Linked DNA regions of Homo sapiens: all the other regions are linked to region 2. The links come from fine-mapping of genetic effects on gene expression. A gene starts in region 2. Each other region holds a variant in brackets. All regions are shown on one strand. Distances are from middle to middle. Region 1 has its middle 11 kb from the start of GRAMD1C. Region 2 holds the start of ATP6V1A (ATPase H+ transporting V1 subunit A). Region 3 holds the start of GRAMD1C (GRAM domain containing 1C).

Evidence for each region. PIP is the estimated chance that this variant, and not a neighbour inherited with it, causes the effect.
Region 1: its variant is fine-mapped to the expression of ATP6V1A in whole blood (TOPMed, PIP above 0.99).
Region 3: its variant is fine-mapped to the expression of ATP6V1A in whole blood (TOPMed, PIP above 0.99).

What each region holds. Positions count from the first base shown.
Region 1 is chr3:113,823,377-113,831,559 of GRCh38, reverse strand. It overlaps a transcript of GRAMD1C not described here. Among named protein-coding and RNA genes, the nearest start is that of GRAMD1C, 11 kb to the left of the region's middle. RefSeq lists an enhancer at 513-662. The variant G/A (reference allele first, on the strand shown) is at 4,498.
Region 2 is chr3:113,741,988-113,750,170 of GRCh38, reverse strand. ATP6V1A (ATPase H+ transporting V1 subunit A) reads right to left here and starts at 3,136. Exons shown (of 15, transcript NM_001690.4): 1 at 3,058-3,136. It overlaps NAA50 (N-alpha-acetyltransferase 50, NatE catalytic subunit), which reads left to right and starts at 3,922. Exons shown (of 5, transcript NM_025146.4): 1 at 3,922-4,229. The coding sequence starts at 4,222. RefSeq lists enhancers at 3,179-3,548, 2,870-3,605, 3,606-4,341, 4,589-4,738, 4,342-5,078 and a silencer at 3,899-4,018.
Region 3 is chr3:113,835,796-113,843,978 of GRCh38, reverse strand. GRAMD1C (GRAM domain containing 1C) reads right to left here and starts at 5,191. Exons shown (of 18, transcript NM_017577.5): 1 at 5,043-5,191. The coding sequence starts at 5,069. RefSeq lists a silencer at 4,979-5,178. The variant G/A (reference allele first, on the strand shown) is at 4,768.

The DNA of each region.
Region 1 (8,183 bases), 81 kb before region 2:
CATATACAAAATGGGAATTCCAGGAGAGAAGAAAGAAAGAATATTTGAAGAAGTAATGGCCAAGAAAGAATGAGGAAACTCTTTATGCACTGATATATAAAGATCTACAAAAAATTTTGTCACATTAAAAAAAAGTAAGGTGCAAAACAATATACAGTGCCAAAAATGCATACTCTGAATCTAATTGTGAGGAAACAGACAAACTGAAATTGAGGGACATTACTTGAACTCTTCAAAAACATCAAACTCATAAAAGGCAAAGAAAGACTGAAGTGTTCTTTCATACTAAAGAACACTAAAGATATATAGCAACTAAATACAATGTGCGATTTTGTCTTGGATCCTGAACCAGAAACATTTTGTTGTTGTTGTTGTTATAAAGAACATTACTGGGACAACTGGAAAACTTTGAATAAAGTGTAGGTTACATTATAGTATTGACTCAGTGTTAATTTCCTGTTTTTGTTTTTTGAGACAGAGTCTTGCTCTGTCACCCAGGCTGGAGTGCAGTGGTGCGATCTCAGCTCACTGCAACCTCTGCCTCTTGGGTTCAAGCAATTCTCCTGTCTCATGCTCCGGAGTAGTCTCAAGTGCATACCATCATGCCAGGCCAATTTTTGTATTTTTAGTAGAGATGGGGTTTTTACAGGTCACCCTGGCCTCGAATTCCTAACCTCAGGTGACCCACCCGCCTTGGCCTCCCAAAGTGCTGGGATTACGGGCATGAGTCACCATGCCCATACAATTTCCTGTTTGTTATAATTGTACTATGGTTAGGTATGGGGATGTGCTTGTTTTAGGAAGTGCAGTCATGCATTGCATAACAATGTGTCAGTCACTGCATTCAACAGTGAACCACAAGAAAACAGTGGTCCCATAAGATTATAGTACAATATTTTTACTGTACTTTTTCTATGTTTGGATACACAAATACTTCTCATTGTGTTACAGCTGTCTTCAGTATTCAGCATGGTAACATGCTGTCCAGGTTTATAGCTCAGGAGCAATAGGCTATTCCATATAGCCTAAGTGTGTAGTAGTAATACAGGAGATAGAATTTAGGCAGATAGTAAGGGTAAGAGTCCTCGGTGGAACTCCCCTTTTAACAAAAAGCAGCCACCAAAACATTTCTTTTCTAACAAAGAGCAGCCTGAAAAATCAAGCCGCAAACATAGATAAGCAAGCTAAAAAGCTTGCACAGGTGAATGCCAGCCTCAGTGCCAATAGAAAAGGGCTACCTGGATGCCAGGCATGTTCAACAGGGAGGGTCCTCTTCTCTTTTCTTTGTCACCACGTGTACAGTAAAGAGGCAGGCAACATGGTGCCTGGCCATGTAGAGAACCCATCTCCATAATAAAAGATTAGGGTGGAGTGGCCAGCTTCTTTGCATGCTGTGCAAACCGCACACCTAGTCCTAACCAGTTCTTCGTGTGCTATGCAAATGACACACCTGGTCCGACCAATCTTTTGTGCCCTATATAAATCAGATACCACCTCCCCAAGATCATCTATTCAACCTTCTGCATTTCACCATGGAAGCAGCAACCCATATTCTCTGGGGCCCCTCTCTCTGCAGCAGAGAGAGCTTTTCTCTTTATTTCGCCTATTAAACTTCTGCTCTGAACCTCACCCTGGTTTGTCTGCGTCCTTGTTTTCCATGACCGTGGGACAACGAACCTCAGGTATTACCCCAGACAACAACATCACCTCAGTAGGCTCTACCATTTAGATTTCTTTAAGTACATTCTAGGATGTTGGCACAACAGCAAAATTGCCTAATGACGCATTTCTCAGAACATATCCCAGTTGTTAAGTGACGTATGACTTTGTACACTGATATATTTGATCTAGCTCACCCAAATGTTTCAGAAAAAAAAATTGTGTGCCAAGAGAGAATAATAAATAAAGCAAACATGAAAATCTGAGTAAAAGTTTTATGGGAAGCCTTTGCACTATTCTTGCAACTTTCTTATTTCAAGTAATTAAAAACTATTATAACTCAATAAATAAAGTGAAACCACCCTCCACAGTTGTGTCATTTTTTTTTTGTAGTTGCACAAATGCAAACACAGAATGGACACAGTTGGATTTAGTTGGAGGTTTTGGAGGGTTTCTTGAGACAGGGTCTCTCTCTATTACCCAAGCTAAAGTGTAGTGGCATGATCACTGTTCACTGCAGTCTTAACCTTCTGGACTCAAGTGATCCACCTCAGCCTTCCAAGTACCTGGGGCCACAGGCCCACACCACCCCATCCAGCTAGGTTTTGGGGAGTTTTGTTTGTTTGTTTGTTTGTTTGTTTTGTACAGACTGGGCCTCCCTATGTTGCCCAGACTGGTCTTAACTCCTGGCCTCAAATGATCCTCCTGTTCTGGCCTTCCCTCGTGCTGGGATTACAGATGTGAGCCACTGCACCCAGCCTAAGGTTGATTTTTACCAGGCAAGTACGCTAAGTCACAAGAGAAGCAAGGGAGATAAGTATGTATGCAAGGATTTGGCAATAATGATTGCCCCTGGAGTCCAAGCAGGGTTAAGAAGCAAAATAAGGTCATAAGAGTGTCAAGGCCAATGAAAGTGTGAGGATTAAATGTTTGTAAATCTAGTTGAGATTAAAGGACTGCTGGTGATAGAAGTGATGAGTTGGAAAGATACAAATGGTACTTGAAACTGAGATTGTGGACAAATTGCAGTTATAATGATAAGTTCTATGATATGAGCATGAGAGTGGGTGGCTGACAGGAGTGGTGGTTCAGATTGTTGGGGCAGAGGACAAGGCACTAAGAAACCAGGAATTGAAAGTATAACCTTAGTGGCTATTGAAATCACCAAGTGCAGAAAGAGTAGGGTAGAAGAAAGCGACATGAGCAAGGAGCAAAAATCTTCAATGAAAAAGGGAACATGGATTGTGAGTTTATAGATGACTCCAATAAGAAAAGGCAACTGGTGGCATAGTGTTCTGACATGAAATTCAAAGATAGAGTGTTAGGGAAGAGTGAAGGAAAAGAGTCTGGAAGTAATAGGAAAAAAGAAGACAATCACTTTTTCTTGGGCCCATTGGTGCTCCAGCTACTATAGTTGCATGACAAATCACCCAAAACCTTAGTGGCTGAAAACAATAATCATTCATTATTTCATGGTTTCTGTGGGTCAGGAACCTGGAGCAGCTCAGCTCCTCAGTTCTAGCTCATGGGCTTTCAGAGGTTGCCCTTAATCAAGTGGATATCCAGTCATCAGAAGACCTGATAGTGGCTGGAGGATCCACTTCTATGGTGTCTCACTTACATGGCCGGGCACCTGGTACTGGCTATTGGTTTGGGACCTCAATTCCTCTCCATATGGACATCTTCACAGAGCTGCTTCAGTCCTCATTGCATGGCAGTGCCTTTCCTCAGAGCAGGTAATCCAGGATACCAAGGTGAGGACTACAGTGCCGTTTATGACCTAACCTTGGAAGTTATAGACTATCATTTACACCGCATTCTATTGGGGTCAGTCAGCTCTGATTCACTGAGGGAGGTGACTCCACAGGGCATGAATGATAGAGGCCAGGATCAATGGAGGCCTTATTGATTGGAGGCCAATGGAGGCCAGGATCAAAGAAGGCCAGATCAATGGGAAGTTACAAGTGATATGATGGTGTGGGAGAGGAAACAGACACCACTTGAGAGGGCTTCAGGGAAAGCCGTTTCCTCTCAAGTTTCAGGGGAAAACCAAGTATCAGTGCAAGCTTGTCCAACCCGTGGCCCACAGGCCACATGCGTCCTAGGACAGCTTTGAATGCAGCCCAACACAAATTCGTAAACTTTCTTAAAATATTATGAGAGTTTTTTGCCATCAGCTGTCATTAGTATTAGTGTATTTTATTTTATTTTATTTTAAGATGGAGTCTCGCTCTGTCACCCAGGCTGGAGTGCAGTGGTGCGATCTTGGCTCACTGCAACCTCTGCCTCCCGGGTTCAAGCAATTCTCCTGCCTCAGCCTCCTGAGTAGCTGGGACTACAGGTGCATGCCACCACGCCCGGCTAATTTTTTGTATTTTAGTAGAGGCGGGGTTTCACCGTGTTGCCCAGGCTGGTCTCAAACTCCTGAGCTCAGGCAATCCGCCTGCCTCGGCCTCCCAAAGTGCTGGGATTACAGGCATGAGCCACTGTGCCCGGCCTAGTGTTAGTGTATTTTATATGTGGTCTGAGACAATCCTTCTTCCAATGCAGCCCAGTGAAGCCAAAAGATTGGACACCCTTGAGTTAGAACAAGATGAAGAAAGATTTTTAGAGAATTTTCAGAGAAAACTCAAAGAACTTAGGTTATAGAAGATTTTGTTGGCTGGGTGCGGTGGCTCACGCCTGTAATCCCAGCACTTTGGGGGGCCGAGGCAGGCAGATTGCCTGAGCTCAGGAGTTCACAACCAGCCTGGGCGACATGGTGTTGAAACCCCTCCTCTACTAAAATACAAAAAATTAGCCGGGCGTGGTGGCATGCACCTGTAGTCCCAGCTATTC[G/A]GGAGGCTGAGGCAGGAGAATGGCATGAACCCAGGAGGCCGAGCTTGCAGTGAGCCGAGATAGTGCCACTGCACTCCGGCCTGGGTGAAAGAGCAAGACTCCATCTCAAAAAAAAAAAAAAGATTTTGTTCATGTCTGATCCTGAATTCCACAACGCACTAGGGAGGGAGTTTTGGAGTTAAGGGCAGGGCTGGTGGGGAAGAAATGAGTGCTGAGGAAATAGATAGGGTGCTCAGAAGCATGCAGCAGTCCTAGGGTCACCTCTTTATTTTATCCCAAGGAGGCCCAGAGGTGGGCTACCGATGGTATGCCACTTTTTGCCCCTTCACTAAGTAGAGTGTTCCTGAAGTACAGCTCTGTAACTCACATTTCAATATTAGAAAGAGCTTGAAGGAGTTTACAAACTTCACTCTTTCAAATTTGTTAAATGTTCAGTATGACTAGTTTTAGTATAGATCCTTGGGAAATGTCATTGTTAATTTTTATCACTTTTTTCTAGTTTTGCTAACCCATAAATAGTGAGTTAACATATCTTTATAGACCTAATGAAGTGGGTCATGCCTGTAATCCTAGCTTTTGGGAGGCTCAGATGGAAGGATTGCTTGAGGCCAGGAGTTCAAGACCAGCCTGGGCATCACAGCAATCCATCCCTAGGAAAATTTTTAAAATGTGTGTGTGTGAGTGTGTGTGTGTGTGTGTGTGTGTGTGTGTGTGTGTGTGTGTACACATATGTATCTAACTTTGTTCCTTCCTGAAACCCACCCAAATTGCAATAAAAGGAGTTGTGGACAGACAGAACAGGAGAGGAAGCAAGAGCAAGAAACTTGTAAGCTGAAAGGCAGGGGAATGAATTGCAACTGAATTATAAAACTCACTCTCTCTGACCATATTTTTGCCAGACATCTAGTGTCTGGTCCAGGTGCTCAAAGTCTGGTGAGTCCTAGGCTTTCCAGGACTGCCTGTAGGGCTCCTGCCCACTGACTTTCCAAAATGACCTCTAGGACAACCAAGGACCAAGCTGATTTACACCTCAGAATGCCCAAAAAACATGGGAAGACAACACCAAAATACCTGTGACACTGATGATTAAATAAGGAAAGAAGTAGAATTGTAGCTAAAATAAGGACTCAGGTCAAAGCTGCTTGCTTTATTTTTATTTTTTTATTTTTGAGATGGGGTCTCACTCTGTCGCCCAGGCTGGGTTGCAGTGGCACCATCTTGACTCACTGCAGCTTCCACCTCCTGGGTTCAAGCAAGTCTCCTACCTCAGCCTCCCGAGTAGCTGGGATTTACAGGGGCGCGCCACCATGCCCGCATTTTTAGTAGAGATGGGTTTTCGCCATGTTGGCCAGGCTGATCTCAAACTCCTGACCTTAGGTGATCTGCCCATCTCAGCCTCCCAAAGTGCTGGGATTACAGGCATGAGCCACCACTCTGGCCAGGTCAAAGCTGTTTGAAAAGCAGTTATATCCCTAGGTCATCTCCTTGTCTCCATGCTGCTAGGCAATTTTAATTTTCAGATGTATATGTCTCAAAAAATATGCCACCCACCTTACTTAAGAAACAAGCTACTGGAGAAACAGCTCATTAAGAAACCAGTAAAGATAAAATGTGGGCGATGAAAAACAAGCACTAGGATAGAGATGGCATTCCCCAAGTGGTAGATCCCAGAATGACAGCTGCAGACTAGACATAGAAGGCAAGTAGTCCAGATTGGAGCCATGCAACTCAAGAGACAAGCTGATTGAGTGCTGTCATCACCAAGATCCCTATTGCCATTTATCTTCTTTTTAGCTGAAGACAGAATTTCCCTATGAGTCATGTTCAGAATCTTTTGTGTACTTTGCTTGTGAAGTTCCTATTCTCCCTCCATGCTCTGCTGCTTCACCCCACAGATTTCTGGTTTGACTTACTCCTGAGAACGAGAGGTAGCTATGATGGGTTTAGAAGCAGAAAACACAGAACAGTCCATTTTCTCTGACCATATTTTTGCCAAACATCCAGAATCTGGTCCAGGTGCTCAAAGTCTGCTTGAGTCCTAGGCTTTCCAGGATTCCTGAAGGCTCCTGCTCACTGACTTCCCTAAAAAAAGACTGTTTATTAACTCTCCGGGAACCTAACGCCAGATTATGATCAGTTTCTTTTCTCCTGAAAGGCTTTAAAAATCTGATAGTGACACCAGTCACCCTTTGCTTACACAGGAACATAGGTGACATATCTATAAATTAAAACAAGGCACTGATTAACACAAAAATCAGAGTAATGTTTATCTTTGGGGAAGGAAGAGAGTTGCAATTGGTGAGGGCTTCTATGTTACTCCAATATTCTATTTCTTTCTCTTTTTTTTTTGGAGATGAAGTCTTGCTCTGTCTCCCAGGCTGGAGTGCAATGGCGCATTCTTGGCTCACTGCAATCTTTGCCTCCGGGGTTTAAGCAATTCTCCTGCCTCAGCCTCCCAAGTAGCTGGGATTACAGGCATGCGCCACCATGCCTGGCTAATTTTTAAATTTTTGGTAGAGACAGGGTTTCACCATGTTGGCCATGCTGGTCTCAAACTCTTGACCTCAGGTGATCCACCCACCTTGGTCTCCCAAAGTGCTGGGATTACAGGCGTGAGCCACCATGCTCGGCCCCATATTCTATTTCTTAATCTGAGTGATGGGTACATACATATGTATGTTTTTTTTAATTGTCCATGTTAATACTATATATTTTTCTGTAAATAAACATTTACTTAAAAAATAAATATTTTTAAGTAAATAAACAATGAAAGTAATTATGTTTTTATTTAAATGTTGCTTATTGAGTATTGGATTGACAAACATTTTTGTTTTGATTTGAATAGTTTTTGTAGGATAAATATATACAGACACATATATATATATATATCTTAAAAGGAAAAAACCAATATAGAAAAACAGGCTTAGGCTGGGCACAGTGGCTCATGCCTGTAATCCCAACACTTTGAGAGGCCGAGGTGGGAGGATCATCTGAGGTCAGGAATTGGAGACCAGCCTGGCCAATGTGGCGAAACCCCGTCACTACAAAAAATACAAAAATTAGCTGGGCATGGTGGCGTGTAATCACAGCTACTCTGGAAGCTGAGGCAGGAGAATCACTTGAACTTGGGAGGCTGGAGGCAGAGGTTGCAGTGAGCCGAGATAGTGTCACTGCACCCCAGCCTTGGCAACAGAGCGAGACTGCATCTCAAACAAACAAACAAACAAACAAAGCGGGCTTAAGTTAAGTTGGGTAGAGAAAGGGATAAAATTTCCAGGGACTATAGAATGAGATCCACTGAACAGAACAAAGTTTAAGGCTGGTAAAATAAGGATATGTGCAAAATAGAAGCCAGTGTTAGAGTGAAAAGAGAAAAGTACAAACTGAGAGAGTTCCTAGGTCATTTGCTAAGGATATTAGATTTCCAGATTCACATTTCATTAAACTATAAATTATTTAAATACAACTTGTGTCAATTTCTGAAATGAGATGCCTTATATTATCTAATGTTGCACTATAACCTATGGTGTTAAATAAATTAACCTACCTAAATTTGACCTGCCATCTCTCTCATTCCTCTCCTTTCTGCCTCAATGATATCCACCAACCTCTCAATTTTAGCATTGCTATTTTAAGTAAAAATGCTTTGCCTTTACAAATAAATAAGCAAATGTTTTCCAATAAAC
Region 2 (8,183 bases):
GTCATAGGAAGGTTCCTAAGTATCAAACCTGAACCCCTCCCCAGCATTACGTAAAAGGACATATAACTAAAGTGGCAGAGCTGAATGAAGATCCTCTGACTTTTAGTCTAGTGCTAGTCCACTTATAGATCACGCAGAGCCACTTTTTCATTTAGTACGATTCATTCCTCTTCCCTTCTCTCCCATATTTTGATGATAACCATACTTATTAGTAAACAAACATGCTGTGAAAATAAGTTGGTCTCAGCATTAATAAAGTCCATCTGAGGTTTTTATCTATTGTATTGACCATGAATTTGGAAGGTTATTACCAGTTTATATTTAAAAGCTAACATTTAGTGCACAACTTTAGGAAGAGCTATGATCTGCAAAAATTAAAGTGGTTTAATTTCTTTGTCTAATTGCCCAACATTCATTCAATAAATAATTTATTGAGTACCTATCAGGTACTTCAGTATTCTGGTGCTGAAGACACAATAGTATTATAGTTCACAGTCCTGAGAGCTTTATGATTTGCTGAGGAAGAGCCCAGGGAACAGGAATTAAATACAATGCTAGAAGTGCAAGTAGAAGAATAGAAAAGATGATGATGATGATTAGTAGTAGTCTATAGGACTGAGTGGCTACCTCTGCCCATGGGGAAGAAAGCATTCTTAGTGGTGGCAAAAATCTATAAAGGCACTGAAAACAAGAACTCAGGAAAAGAAAACCAGAAGTGCCAAGGGCCCTAAAATAAAACCAAACCCTTATGCTTTATTTAATAGTGGACTATAGCACAATTCCCTAATAAATGTTAAGATTTCTACATGTAACACTCATAAACTGATAAGGCTAGTCTCAGAAATGTTTTCCAGGCTTCCAATCGTGTGTGTGTGTGTGTGTGTGTGTGTGTGTGTGTGTGTGTGTGATCTGTGTATAATGTCAAAGCTTTTTTTCACATTTAACCTTACTAGCAATGTAATCACCAATTCCCACTACTAATCTACATTTCATCAGTGGTCTAAGTTATTGCTTTCACGAGTTCCCTAAAACTGGGGGAATTGTGAAGTAAAACTGCAGACTCATCCAACCACTTTCATACTGACATTTTCCCCTCTAGTAGTCAATGCTTCTAGCTGGTTTTCTCTTTCACATTTTGGTCTCAGCCAGACAGGACTAGTTAGGACTTCCAGACCACATAAGGAATTCTCCTTACGTGGTGCAATGTCACCTGGTCACTGAAGTAACACTTCCTTTTTTTCTTCCCCTCTCCTCTAGAGATCAAGGAACCTTATTATGGAGAAAATTAATGGATAAAACTACATATATATATCTACAGCAGGCATGATGACATAAATATATCAATACATTAGTCTATTGTCCAGTATGGGTCGTAAGTACGAAATGCTAAAATGGTAAATCCACAAGAGATAGTAGTAATCTTCATTACTTGGGGAAAGCAACATCTCCGAGGTTATGTTTTCTACTAAGGAGCATCAATAAGCTAGGTTATGTATTTTGCACTTACTATAAAAATACTTTGTTAAACTGCTGCTATTGTAGAATTTTAACTTTTTATTCTCCTTAACAAAATAAGACCGTTTATTGTATAGAATTTGGAAGACACAGAAAAACAAAAATAAATCAGTCACATCCACCAAAGATGATTCCATCTTCCTCATTTTCCAGCAGTCTTCTTTAATTACCTTAGTTAGAAAACTACAAGATTTAACTGAGCATATAATTTTTCATATTAAGAAAGGTGTAATTTAAATTTTAAAAATCAAATTTGTAATATTCGTAAGACCTTCAATTGAAAAGCAGCATGGAATTTTCTGAGTTTGCAGTATAAATAAAAGAGTTTAACCACAAACTGAAAAACATTCTTCCCTAAAGCACATTGTTTGGGATCAAAACATTGGTAATAATACATTATGGACGGAATGGGAGTACTTGGGTTGGACAACACCTGTATTTTCAATTGGACAACAATTTCTGTATTTTCACAAAATACTATTCATCAAAATCTGAAGAGGGCACCGGGAGTTTTACAAATGGGGAAAGCTAAAGAGGGATACAAATGCTACTTAACCTAAATTTACCACAAAGCCGATCAAGGAATAGATTGGGAGTGCCAATTCAGTAGTATTTTAGGGGAAAATGACAAAAAGGGAAGGATTGACGGCAGAAAACATGTGCAGACAGCAACATCTCGACTTGATTCTACCTTTAAGCATATGGCCAAATCAATTTGGTTTAACTATTTCCAACCCAATCAGTTTCTTATTTCGGTTTCAGGGAACCCTACTCACTCTTCCCTAAACCAGCCTGGGCCTCCTGCACACCACAACACCACAATACCATCTTTCAACGCCTCCTCATTCAATCGAGACTGTCGCATTACTAACACCTCCTGTTTTGAAGACAGTATTCCTTCAACTGTCCTCTCTGCAGAGAAGAAAAAGTAAAAGCCCTTCTTTTACTTTTCTAGTCCCATCCGAAGCACGTGAACATCTACGGAACCTTCCCTGCAGGTATGTCAGATAAAATCCTTAGAATCACTGAGAAAGCACATTCGGAGGGAAGCTTCACAGTGACTCTGCAGTGAGGGCCGTATCAGTGACAGTCCCTCCCAAGCCTGTCTCACCGGAGACGCCTCTGCCTCCAGGGTTTTTGCTACCTCCCCGCTCCTCAGCCCTGAGCTGAGGGTAAGGACAGTGAGGACCTTTGCCAAAGAATGGGCTTTAAGGAATGGGACCTAATGTCTACTGCAGACCCTGTGAAATGGCTGAAACAATCTGCTACCCGAAGCCCCAAAGGCTCTGAGTAGGGAACCATAATGGCCGCACTCACTTCCAACCCTGGGAAAGGTGGACATCTGAATCCCCAAGTAGCGGGAACGACCACACTTGGGGGAGCGGGGGTTAAGGAGAAATGAGCTCCTTGCCGGTGCAGGGTGACAGCGGGGAGGAAGCCTCAGGCAGAAAAGTCGCCGTTCACACTCTCCCTTCTCTCCTTCCTCTGCCTCCTTCCACCCCCTCTATCCCCACCACTCGCCAGTTACCGGTCGCCGCTCACCTGCTGGGGCGCGAGGTGCAGAGACTGTACCGACCGAGGACCCAGAGGCTGTCACCACGGAGGGGAAGTCCTCAGCTGCACAGGTTGGGGGGGGGGGGGGGGGCGGGCCCAACCAGTCACATGACGTCGAGCTCCGCCCTGCCTCCTCCATCCCAGCGCTCTACATCTCGGGGGGCCTGAATTTTTACGGATCCCTTGAATATTAATTTTCTTGGATTAAAGAAATAAAAGATAAATTTTCACAAAGAGTATGTTATAAAGTACAATGTGGAAAATGTGGACAGCAAGAGTTAAAGCGCATTGCTAAGGAAGTGACGTTCACGCCACAATCGAGGGACAGGAAATGGCGGTGGCGTTCCGTCCCTCTGGAGTCCGCCGGTAAAATTCCAGGCTCTGAGGTTTGGGCCAATCACGTGATCTTAAAACTTGAGGCGTGCTGGAGGGTAGCCAATCTATCTGGCCGATTGTTAACTACGTTTGTTTTAAAACACCTAACTTAAACTTGAGCTTTCCACAGATTTCTTTACATTTAGAAGAACTAACTTTATAAAACCCTACTAGGAGGCAACAGCGTTTGAAGGTCACTCTGGAGACCACAAACTGGGAAGAACGGGGCTGAGAAAAACTATCTTGCGGATATGGGACAAGAGAGGGAGGGGTGGAAAAATCTGGATTTTACCGCCAGGGCCTACCGAGCCAGCCCCACAAGCAGTGTCGTAAGCGGGTGGGAGGGAGGAGCATGACCCCAGAAGGCCCAGTCCAGGAGAAAGATGGAGGTTCCGGAGTGGAGGGGGCAGGGTGCGCGGAGGCGAGCAGTGCGGCTGCGCGTGAGGCGGCGGCGCGCCGGCGCGCGAGGGGCGGGGTGAAAGGTCACAGCGCGGCAGCGGGTCTGGCTGGCGGCAGCGGCGGGAGGGAGCCGAGAGACCCGAGTGCACGTGTGGAGAAGCGGCGGCACAAGCGCGGCGGCGGGAGACACTCCCGCCCCCACCAGACTCAAGCCCTCACTCGACTCTCGCGGCCTTCGTTGCTCGCACAGCTCCCTGCCCAGGCTAGGAGGCCGGCTTGCGGGGTTGAGTGGCCCGAGCTAAGGGTGCGGAGACCTAAGGGCGGCGACTACGACGGCGTTGATATCGGTGGTAACGACGGCCTCAGCAGGCGGGGAAGATGAAAGGGTGAGGAAGGGCAGCCGGGCAGGGCCCGGCCGGTGGGGTAGAAGGGTCCGGGCCCATGTAGAGGGGGAGAGCCGCAAAGGCGAGGAGAGATTCAGGGCGAAGACGGGCGGAGGGAGATTTCTCTGCTTCTCAGTTCCCTCGGCTCCCGGAGGGGGCGGAGGCGAGGCTCGGGCTGTTGGCGGGCTGAAGGGCCAGCGGAGGCAAGACCCGGGGGGCTTCAGGGTTTCGGTTCGGAGACGAGTGTGGGTTGTTGAGTGGGGAGAAGCGACCGAGTGGGGCAACATGGAAAGGCTATTGTGAAGCGCCCGGGGCCTCCTTCCCGGGAGCGGACCGCTGAGCCACGCCGGCCCGCAGCTCCAGGTGGAGTGGTTTGGTTGTCTTCCACCTCCAGACTCAACTCTGGAACTGCGGTGTTTGACACCTTTCAGTTTAATTCACGCTTGGGAGCTGTGCAGAACCTTCTGGAGGAAGAAGAAATTGGAATAAAGAGCACGGGGATGAGTATTAAGAGCTAGTGACTCAACTAGATTTGGGTTGGGTCACAGCGAGTGGAGGAGGGGGAGAGAGCGCGATCACTGTAGACTTGGGGTGCCAACATATTTAAGGAAGTATAGGGTGGATCAGTAGGTGGAGCTGTTGCTTCAGTAGTTCACTATTGCCCCTGAGTGCTGAGGCGGTCCTGGGTAGTTCTACCACGCTGCTCCTTTCAGGTGATTGGCAAAGTTAATGTTCGGTCTTTCACCGTTTGCCTCTTACGTAAAATTAGGAATTATTTTGGATCGACTGGTTAAGTTTTTATGAAATGTCTCCTTACCATTAAGTTGTATAGTTTTAATGTATTAATTACGTAACATTTTTCCGAAGCATTGTCTCAAGCCGTTTTGGAGCTTGTCTTTACCCTCAAAGAGATGAAGCTCATAAACGTTAAAAAGCTCTCTGCGATGCCATAGTTTGTTGTTGTAAGTCGATTAAGAAGTCGTAACTATGTTTTAAGTTAACGAAGTCATTCCAACTATTCAATAGCACTTTTGAGGATGAAATAAAAGTCACTTTCAACGTAATCTCATACTGCCCCAAACAAGGACCTAAATATTACCTCTGTGTATCGGTATTTGAGGTTCCTGAAGAGATTCCAAGAAAGTTTAATTTGGTCTTAGGTCTGTAACATGTTTCCTTACTTTAATTTTCCTTTAAATACTGGATATTTATTCTAATGTTGAATTGTATGTTTTGTACTAATAATCTTTAAAGTTTAAGAACCATGAACTATTCACAGTACCTGCATTGTTTCACATCAAGTTGTAAAGAGTTCCAGTTAGGGAAATATAATTGACGGGTATAGGAAGTATTTGCTCCACTTGAATCATGATCTTGGAAGTTTGGCTATTTCAGATACAATCCAACATATTTGGAGAATGTTGTTTTTCTGCTATACTGCACTCCTTTTGTTTTGTTCTTTTCATTTTTTTTTTTTTAATGAGGCAGGGTCTGGCTCTGTTGCCCAGGCTGGAGTGCAGTGGCGCTATCTCGGCCCACTGCAACCTTTGCCTCCCCAGCTCAAGCAATCCTCCCGCCTCAGCCTTCCGAGTCGGTGGGACCTCAGGCGCGCACCACCACGCCTTGCTAATTTTTTGTATATTTTGTAGAGACGGGGGTCTGACTATGTTGGCCAGGCTGGTCTCAAACTCCTGAGCTCAAGCGATCCACCCACCTCTGCCTCCCAAAGTGCTGGGATTACAGGTGTGAGCCACTGAACGCGGCATATACTGCACTTCTTGAACATGGTTGCTGACTCTTACTCATTTTTGTACTCATTGTCAGGCACTCAGTACTTGTTTGTCATGTTCTGTTAAGTAAGAAAAATGAGGCTGAAGAGTTCCCAGTGTTGAAATTGCCATGGATTTACGAAGGGGTTGCCAGGAAATTATTCTGTATGTTTAGATCCAAAATCTTCAATCTAGTTCAGTCTCCATAGGCTGTGATGTTCTTTCTGATACATAACTTGGCGATAGAAATGAAGCTGAACAGTCATATTATTCACAATCTACCTTGAATTAATATATTCATGGAGCAATTATCTCTGTTTAAAATGGGTATTTACATGTAACCTGATGAAGGCAGATCCCTAGAAATAACTGGCCGAATTTAGAGGAAACTTACAACTATTGAATCTGTACCTTTATGCCAGTAACTATGCCAGTGAAGTTCCTATTACTTCTTATGATTGGGAGCTTAGAATTGTGTTCTTTACTGTAAACCTTTAAGATGATTTCACAGGAATAATCCCTTTAACTTAACAAATGAACTAACTCCCAGATGAGATGAAACTTTTTAATTTTTTTTGCTTCTAAGTCTGTATTTAAGACACTCAACAAATGAGTTGTGTGAATCTTACTTGTGCTTGTTCGGATACTGAACCTACAACAGTATAGGTTTAAAATAAGTTAAGCGCCTTGAGTTCCAAAACTTGTACCACAGTGCACAGTGTGGTCGATTTTAAAGTCCTGACTCTTAATTTGGAATGGCCTGTAAAAACGAAACAGTGGTCCTGGTTATGTGGCTTTTGTATGAAATTTTATTTGCTAAGTATTCTATTGTATATTGAGGTAAGTAAACAGTAAATTGAAATATCTAAAATTGGAAACTGCGGAAGTCCCAACACGAAGCCAGTCAAATATTTAAAATTGTACACTGTTGCCTATGTTGCCTATCATATTGAAACTTAAAACTTAGCTGGTTTTTCTTCATATTTTTACCATGAGTATTTTTATTAGTAGTAGCAGTAGGACTTTCCATTGTATTGGCATGTCTTTCCTCCATAGAAGATAAATTTCCGGTTATTAACTACTGAATGTAATTTATATGCACATGTAGAAGTTTGAGATATACTAGGAAATGTTGCTTACTTTTGAGGTTGGCTGTTTTTATGAACCAGGGACATTGTAGTTTGAATTTGTGGGTGATATTTTTATCTGTTCTTCTCTAGGGAAGGCGATTTCAAGCAAGAAGGTATGCCACAGATAACCATGACTGAGGTGGCAATGTAATTAGGCAGTGTAATGGAAAGTATAATAAAACCAAATCATTTAGCCTTCAATTGTAGTAAAGAGGTGCAAATTAGTTCTAATAAAAAATGTCTTTAACAAAATGTGAATACGTGACTAAGATGGGAAAGTAGGTAGCAGTAATATAAATATGGAACAATGTTGACTACTAATTGGAATAGTAAAGGGAGCCATTTTACCAAATAAAATTAAAATGTAAGATTCTGCAGTCAGAAACAAAACTTTAAAAACTCCGAACAGTGGTTACCTCTGACAGCATATGGACTGGGAAGGGGCAAAAGGAATGCTTTTTGCATCTCAGCATAGTGAGACCTTGTCTCTACAAACAATAAAGCAGCCAGGAGAATCACCTGAACCTGGCAGGTGGAGGTTGTAGTGAGCTGAGATCGTGCCACTGCATTCCTGCCTGGGCGACAGAGTGAGACTCTGTCTCAAAAAAAAAAAAAAAAAAGCCAGGCATGCTGGTGCAAGTCTGTAGTTCCAGCTACTTGGGAGGCTGAGGCAGGAGGATCACTTGAGCCCAGGAGTTCAAGGCTGCAGAGAGCCATGATCTTGTCACTATATTTCAGCCTGGGCAACAGAGCGAAAACTGGTCTTAAAAAACAAAACAAAACAAAACTTTTTTTAAAGGTTTATTGCTGTTTTGTTTTTCAGCAAAACCAAAAGCTAGTCAGGCTGACGTAGCATTTGACACCTTTTATAAACCTACAGTTTATACTTCTTCCTTCTGTGAAACAATTTGTGGTTTGTTGATTGAGATAGTGAATTTTAACAAATACTTTGTAATGTGCCCTTGCTGTGTTGAGATGAATTCATATAAAATATAACCTTACACCATAAGTTTTTTTAAAAAATCAATGTACTGTTCTCTCTAATATAAAAGAAAAAT
Region 3 (8,183 bases), 94 kb before region 2:
TGTCCGTTTGTACAACTATTTTGGAGAACAATTTGCAATGCCCAGTAGGAAAGAAGATAGACATATACTGCAATGCAGCAATTTAATATACACATAGAGTCAAGAATGTTTGTTAATACTATGAAAGTGGAAATAACCTCACCGTCCATCAATAGAGAAATTAGTAAATAAGCTCTGATTTATACAAACAATGGAGTTTAAACAAACAAATAAGATGTGCCAGCTGTGCGAGGTGGCTCACGCCTGTAATCCCAACACTTTGGGATCACTTGAGGCCAGGAGTTCAAGACCAGCCTGGCCGATATAATGAAACCCTGTCTCTGCTAAAAATACAAAAAATTAGCCAGGCATGGTGGCCTGTAGTCCCAGCTACTCGGAAGCTGAGGCAGAAGAATTGCTTGAACCCAGGAGGAGGAGGTTGCAGTGAGCCGAGATCACACCACTGCATGCCAGCCTGGGTGACAGAGCCAGACTCTGTCTCAAAAAAATATGGGCCCATCGGGTAATTGCTCAAGTAAGATCACTCATCAGGCAGTTAAAAAAAGAAAAAAGCAAATATGGAATAGGGGAGTAAGGAGGAGTAGCCATTATAAAAGCATATGGGCCAGGCACAGTGACTCATGCCTATAATCCCAGCACTTTGGGAGGCTGAGGCAGGAGGACCTCTTGAGCCCAGGAGTTTGAGACCAGCCTGGGCAACATAGTGAGACCCCGTCTCTACAAAAAATATCAAAAAATTTGCCTGGCATGGTGGCATGCGCCTATTGTCCCAGTTGTTCAGGAGGCTGAGGTGGGAGGATTGCCTGAGCCTGGGAGGTCAAGACTGTAGTAAGCCATGATCAAGCTACAGCACTCCAGGCTGGCCGGCAAAGCAAAACCCTGTCTCAAACAAACAACAAGAACAAAAAAAAAAAAAAAAAAAAAAAAAACAGCTTATGGTGGACCAGGATCCTTAAATATCTCTGCTGCTGCTGCTCCACTTAAGCTTGAGGTTCTTTTTGTTTTGTTTTTTTTTTGAAACAGAGTCTCACTCTGTCGCCTAGGCTCGAGTGCAGTGGCGTGATCTCGGCTCACTGCAACCTCTACCTCCCGGGTTCAAGCGATTTTCCTGCCTCAGTCTCCCGAGTAGCTGGGATTACAAGCGTGCACCACCTCACCCGGCTAATTTTTGTATTTTTAGTAGAGATGGAGTTTCACCATGTTGGCCAGGCTGGTCACAAACTCCTGACCTCACGTGATCAGCCCACCTAAGCCTCCCAAAGTGCTAGGATTACAGGCGTGAGCCACTGCACCTGGCCAAACTTGAGGTTCTTAAACCCTATAAATAACCATTGCCATGGGGGAAGCCTCTAATCACAATGATACTGATTTGAGGCTCTCTAGAGAAAGAAATTTGTAAACATGAGAGGGTAGAGAAGACCTCCTCCACCTGAAGTATATCCAGTAACCTCCAAAAAGAGAGGGAGAAACCAACAAACCTGGATAGAAGGGGAGGAAACATACAACAGCAAAACAAAAACAAACAAAAAAAACTGAAACTGAAGTCCATAAACTGATCTAACAAAACATACAGAATTTAAAATAATTTACAGGATAAAAGATAAAAGACTGGCTTTTGTGCCTCTACAACATAGGTTCTAAGTTAACTTCAACATCAGCTAAAATGCGGCAATTGGCAAATCTTCATGGCTTTAATCAATATTGGGTCTCAAATTACAGTTATACCTAGAGTTCCCACTAAATTTAAACAAGGTATCCCCTACAATCTTAGGAGTTATTCAACATAAAATAGACAACAAATAGGTATGCCTCACTTTAACCATCAGAACTATACCTTTGCCTAAATACTCCACGATGGTGGTATACATTGCCCTGAAATATCCTATTGTGGCCATGGACACTCTGACACAATTAGTAATAAACTAAATTTAAATCAAGTCTTTAGAGCTTACAAATTGGCTTTCAAAGAAGTGGGACAACAGGCTGGGTATGTTGGCTCACACGTATAATCCCAACATTTTGGGAGACTGAGGCAGGAGGATCACTTCAGGCCAAGAGTATGGAGAACAAGCTGGGCAATACAGCAAGGCCCCCTCTCTACAAAAATTTAAAGATTAGCCTGGCATAGTGGTACACACATGTAGTCCTAGCTACTTGGGAGGCTGAGGTGGGAGGACTGCCAGAGTCCAAGAGTTGGAGATCACAGTAAGTTGTGATTGCACCATTGTGCTTCAGCCCAGGTGACAGAGCAAGACTCTGTCTCAAAATAAACAAAACAGTGAGACCCTATGGACCACCACTCTCAATGCCCAGTTAAAATTATACAACCCAATATAAAACAAAACAGGGCCTTCAAGGACTAAAACTTGTTATGTAAGACCTACTTCAGCCAGGCACGGTGGCTCACGCCATGCTGTAATCTCAGCACTTTGGGAGGGAAAGCCAGGTGGATCACGAGGTCAGGAGTTCAAGACCAGCCTGACCAACATGGTAAAACCCCATCTCAACTAAAACAAAATACAAAAATTAGCTGGGCGTGGTGGTACGTGCCTGTAATCCCAGCTACTTGGGAGGCTGAGGCAGGAGAATTGCTTGAACCCGGGAGGTGGAGGTTGCGGTGAGCTGAGATTGTGCCACTGCACTCCAGCCTGGGCGACAGAGCAAGACTCTGTCTCGCAAAAAAAAAAAAAAAAGAAAGAAAGAAAGAAGTACTTTGTGAAAGTAATTATCCCTACTGCTTCTCCATTTAACAGCCCAATTTGGCCTGTTAAATTTGGTAAGAATGAATGGTACCTCATGGTTCATTACTGCATCCTCGATGATGTCATTTTACCCAGGAAGGCCCCTATACTCAACATTGTTGAAATTACTGACTATCCAGTCCACAACTAGTAAATATTTTGCTGTGATAGATTTGGCTAATATGTTCTGTTCAGTGTCTCTTTCAACACCTCCTCAGCCATAGTTGGTCTTCACCTCCAGAGAGACATAACATCTCTTTACCAGGCTAACCATAGAGTACGCAGTCTTGCCATCATACACAGCCTTTACAGGAAAGATCTTAACTGCATCAAATTTTCTCCAGGAGCACAAGTATAACATTCCATTGATGACATCCTCCCCTGAGGACAGTCTTTTGACATACTCACAAAGGAGCTCACAAAAGGAGGATGGGCTATTGTGCCACACATAGTGTAAGGCCTACCACCTTGGTTAAATTTCTGAAAATAATTTGGTCTCTGTCACCCAGGCTGGAGTGCAATGGCACAAACAGGGGTCACTGCAGTCTCAACCTCCTGTGCTCAAGTGATCTTCCTATCTCAGCCTCCCAAATAGCTAGGACCACAGGCGCCACACAACCATGCCCAGTTAATTTTTCTTTCTTTTTTTTTTTTATTTTGGTAGATACAGGGTCTTGCTTTGTTGCCCAGGCTGGTCTCAAATTCCTGTCCTCAAGCGATACTTCTTTCTGCCTTGGCCTCCCAAAGTGCTAGAATTACAGGCATGAGCCACTGCACTGGGCCACAATGGCTGACTTAAATTCAAATTCAAATTCAAATGGTGCAGGTCAGTCATCAAACATCAAGGGTGAAAAAAAGACCTGGAGCCAGTTTTTTCCTGAGGCTCTCTTAAGCCATTTTAGTGCTGCTTGAGAGGCCTGCCTTGCTCTCCCTGGAGACCTTAATTATGTAAGTAAAAGACTTTTTCAGGGCCGGGCGCGGTGGTGGCTCAAGCCTGTTATCCCAGTACTTTGGGAGGCCGAGGCGGGCGGATCATGAGGTCAGGAGTTCAAGACCATCCTGGCTAACACGGTGAAACCCCGTCTCTACTAAAAACACAAAAAATTAGCCGGGCGTGGTGGCGGGCGCCTGTAGTTCCAGCTACTGGGGAGTCTGAGGCAGAAGAATGGCGTGAACCCGGGAGGCAGAGCTTGCAGTGAGCCGAGATTGCGCCACTGCACTCCAACCTCAGGGTGTGTGTGTGGCATCATCAGTTTCTACTCCAACCTCATGGTGTGTGTGTGGCATCATCAGTTTCTACACCTGAATCAAATTTGGGATGGGGGTCCATTCTGGCTTTCTGGGGTGGCTACAGTAGATTCCTGTCTCTCTGACTTATTAGCTGTGTGGTCCTTAGCAAAGTCAATCTCTGTACATCTGTTCCTTAACTCTACAATAGAGGAAATAATTTTATCTCTAGTCTAGACAATAAGCTTATTGAGAGCAGGGATCATGTCTGTGTTAATCACCATCTAATCCCGAACACCCAGTGCCAGGGACATAACTGAATCAGTGACTGATTGGGTTCATGAATATCCAGCTTGACTATTTCATAGTAATGTTTTTCAAATCAAGTGAAATAACACTCATTCATCTGTTCATTCAACAATTATTTGTGTACCTCCACTAATCTGTAAACTATAACGCTCTTCAGAAGATATAGCACTGACCGCAGTTCTCTAAAAGTAAAATACATACACACAAACCAATGTAGAAGGAGGATGGTGTTCAGAAACGCAGGCGCCCGTCCAACAAAAGCGGGGTTTCATCCTGAATATTAATAAGCACGCTTTCCGTTTTGTCAAATAAGGTAGTAAACAAATAAAACTAGACTAGTTGAAATCAAAAACTTGGCTGACAGCACAGTGATTTAAACTATCCGGACCTTTACAACAGGGCTGAGAATGAAAGGAAGGGGGCAAGGCTGGAAAAAACGTTGACAGTGGGTCAGAATCACGACCATGGGGCCTGACCCAAGGGGGCCTGG[G/A]GCTGAGACATCCGCACCAGGACATTTCGGGACCAAATTCAAGCCCTCAACGCCCACAGGGAAGCAAATGTCCCCACCACCGCCCGTAGGGAAAGGGCTCGCAGAGGCACAGGAAACCGTTTCCTCGGTAACAACTTTCCGTATTACTCCAAAGAGCACGAAGAAAAGGGAAGGGAGGGATTAACTGTAATCTGAGAAGGTTCAAGCAATCACCGTGAGAAAAAGTAGGCTAAAGCCACAGATGGGAACCTGCCCCAGCGAGGCCCGCGGCTTACCTGACGGACAGTCGGAGCGCCCTCCATCGCGGCTCCCTCCGCCGCCGCGGCACCGCCCCGCGCGCACCGCACCGCACCGCCCCGCGCCCACCTCCAGCGCGCGCTGCGAGTTACAGGCTCCGCGCGCCTCCTCCGCCGGCCCTCCGAGTACTTCCAGCCGCAGCTCCTTGCGCCCTCTGGCGGCCGTGAAGGATTCCTGACGATGGGTGTTACCGGGTTAGCCTGAAGGCTTGTCTTTCTAGGGGTCACAATGAGACTTCCCTATTCCCAACCTCAAACTACTGTGCCTCCCAGGAAATGGCATACCCTGCCCCAATGTGCGAAAAGGTGAATTGCTCGGAAACTTTTTTTTTTTTTTTTTGAGACGGAGTTTCGCTCTCATTCCTCAGGCTGGATGGAGTGCCAAGGCCCCGTCTCGGCTAACTGCAACCTCCGCCTCCCAGTTCAAGCGATTCTCCTGCCTCAGCCTCCCGAGTAGCTGTGGTTACAGGCGCCTGCCACCACGCCCGGATAATTTTTGTATTTTTAGTAGAGACAAGGTTTCACCATGTGGGTCAGGCTGGTCTCGAACTCCCCACCTCAGGCAATCCGCTGGCCTTGGCCTCCCAAAGTGCTGGGATTACAGGCGTCAGCCACCGCCCCCGGCCAGGAAACTCTTGTTCCTTCCAATAAAGGATTGAAGTTACTGATTAACTGCTGTACGTATTGCAGATTCTTGGTTCTGTAAACCAAAAATAAAATGCCGAGGCCCACCCCCAGCCATCTAAATGGACCCCTCCTCTTGGCCAAGAGCGTTCCAAATTTAACCTGAAAATCTAGTTCAGGCCATGATGAAAGAGGGGATTGGACATGCCTCATTAACATCAACACAGACCTTAAGTCTGAGAAGAAATATTTATCATCTATTGCCTCGGACACCTGCTACTTGGAGGCTGCATCTGCATGATAAAACCTTGGTATCCACAACCCCTTATCCTAACCCAGACATTCCTTTCTACTGATAATAACTCTTTTTTCTCTTTTTCTTTTGAGACAGGTTCTGGCTCTATTAGACCAGCTGGAGTGCGGTGGCGCAATCTCTGCTCACTGCAACCTCCACCTCCCGGACTCAACCAATCCTCCCACCTCAGCCTCTCGAGTAGCTGGGACTACTGGCGTGTGCCACCATGCTTAACTACTTTGTTTGTTTGTTTGTTTGTTTGTTTGTTTGTTTTTTGAGACAGGGTTTCGCCATGTTGCCCAGACTGGTCTCGAACTCCTGGACTCAAGCAGTCTGCCCCCTTCGGCCTCCCAAAGTGCTGGGATTACACGTGCAAGCCACAGCTCCCAGTCAATAATAACGCTTTCAACCAATTGCAAATCAGAAAATTTTTTTATGTACCAATGACCTGAAAGTTCCTCCTTCTCGCCTTGGAGCTGTCTCCCCTTCCAGATTGAAACAATGTAAATCTTACATGTATTGATTGATGTATTAGGTCTGCCCAAAATATATAAAAGCAAGCTGTACCCCAACCACCTTGGACACATGTCATTGGGACTTCCTGAGACTGTGTCACAGGTGTGTCCTTAACCTTCACAAAATAAATTTTCTAAATTAACTGAGGCCTGTCTCAGATATTTGGGGTTCAGAGTTCCCAACCAAACAGCTATAAAAAAGACATTCTAAGCCAGGCACAGTGGCTAACTCATGTAATTCCAGCACTTTGGGAGACTAAGGTGGGAGGGTTGCTTGTGTCCAGGAGTTCAAGACCAGCCTGGGCAAAACAGGGGGGCCCCATCTCCAGAAAAGAGAGACAGAGAGAGAGAAAGAAAGAGAGAGAGAGGGAAGGAAGGAAGGAAGGAAAGAAGGAAGGAAGGGAGGGAGGGAAGACATTCTAGAACAATTGAGGAATAGTGAATATGAAATGGCTATTAGAGTTGATGTTACAGGATAATTAATGATTTATGTATACATTTATGGATATTCATTTATGGATAATTAATAATTTTTGGCAGCTGGGCGTGGTGGCTCAAGCCTGTAATCCCAGCACTTTGGGAGGCTGAGGTGGGAGGATCACCTGAGGTCAGGAGTTTGAGACCAACCTGGCCAACATGGTGAAACCCTGTCTCTACTAAAAATACAAAAATTAGTCGGGCGTGATGGTGAGCACCTGTAATCTCAGCTACTTGGGAGGCTGAGGCAGGAGAATCGCTTGAACCTGGAAAGTGGAGGCTGCAGGGAGCCGAGATCAGGCCATTGCACTCCAGCCTGGGCAAGAAGAGTGAAACTCCGTCTCAAATAATAATAATAAATAATAATAATAATAATAACTTGTGGCTATGTTGCAGGGTGTCTTTAATATTAGAAAACTCACACTAAAATATTTAGGAGTTCCCTGTTATCCATGGGGATGTAAAAAAAAAAAAGTATTTAGGAGTGAAGTAGCACCATGTCTGCAACTTGCTTCCAAATGCTTCCACGAAGATGAATACACAGAGAAAACAAAATAGCGAAACGTTAATTATTGGACCTAAGTGGAGGGTATACTACTATTCAGTTATTCTTTTACTGTTTACATATATTTAAAAATCATAATGTAAAGTTGAAGAGATGGAAAGGAGTTGAATCCAGTTCCACAAAATGTCAGACACTGAGTGTATTTCTTTTTTGTTTTGTTTTGTTTTTGTTTTTTTGAGACAGAGTCTCGTTCTGTCCCCCAGACTGGAGTGCAGTGGCACAATCTTGACTCACTGTAACCTCTGCCTCCCAGGTTTAAGCAATTCTCCTGCCTCAGCCTCCTGAGTAGCTGGGACTACAGGCGCCCACCACCATGCCCGGCTAATTTTTGTATTTTTAGTAGAGATGGGCTTTCACCATGTTGGCCAGGCTGGTCTCAAATTCCTGGCCTCAAGTGATCCACCCGCCACAACCTCCCAAAGTGCTGAGATTACAGGCGTGAGCCACTGCACCTGGCCATGAGCATATTTCTTAAATATATATGACATACTAAAGGACAAATTACTTAATAAGATAATCAGTAAAAGACAGGTTTCCATCCTCATTCTGCAAAACTTTGCATAAACTGTGTTCTGTTAAACATAAAAAACGTCACAGAACACTAATATTAAGCAAGGCCACTGTATGATCATGATAGAGTAAGA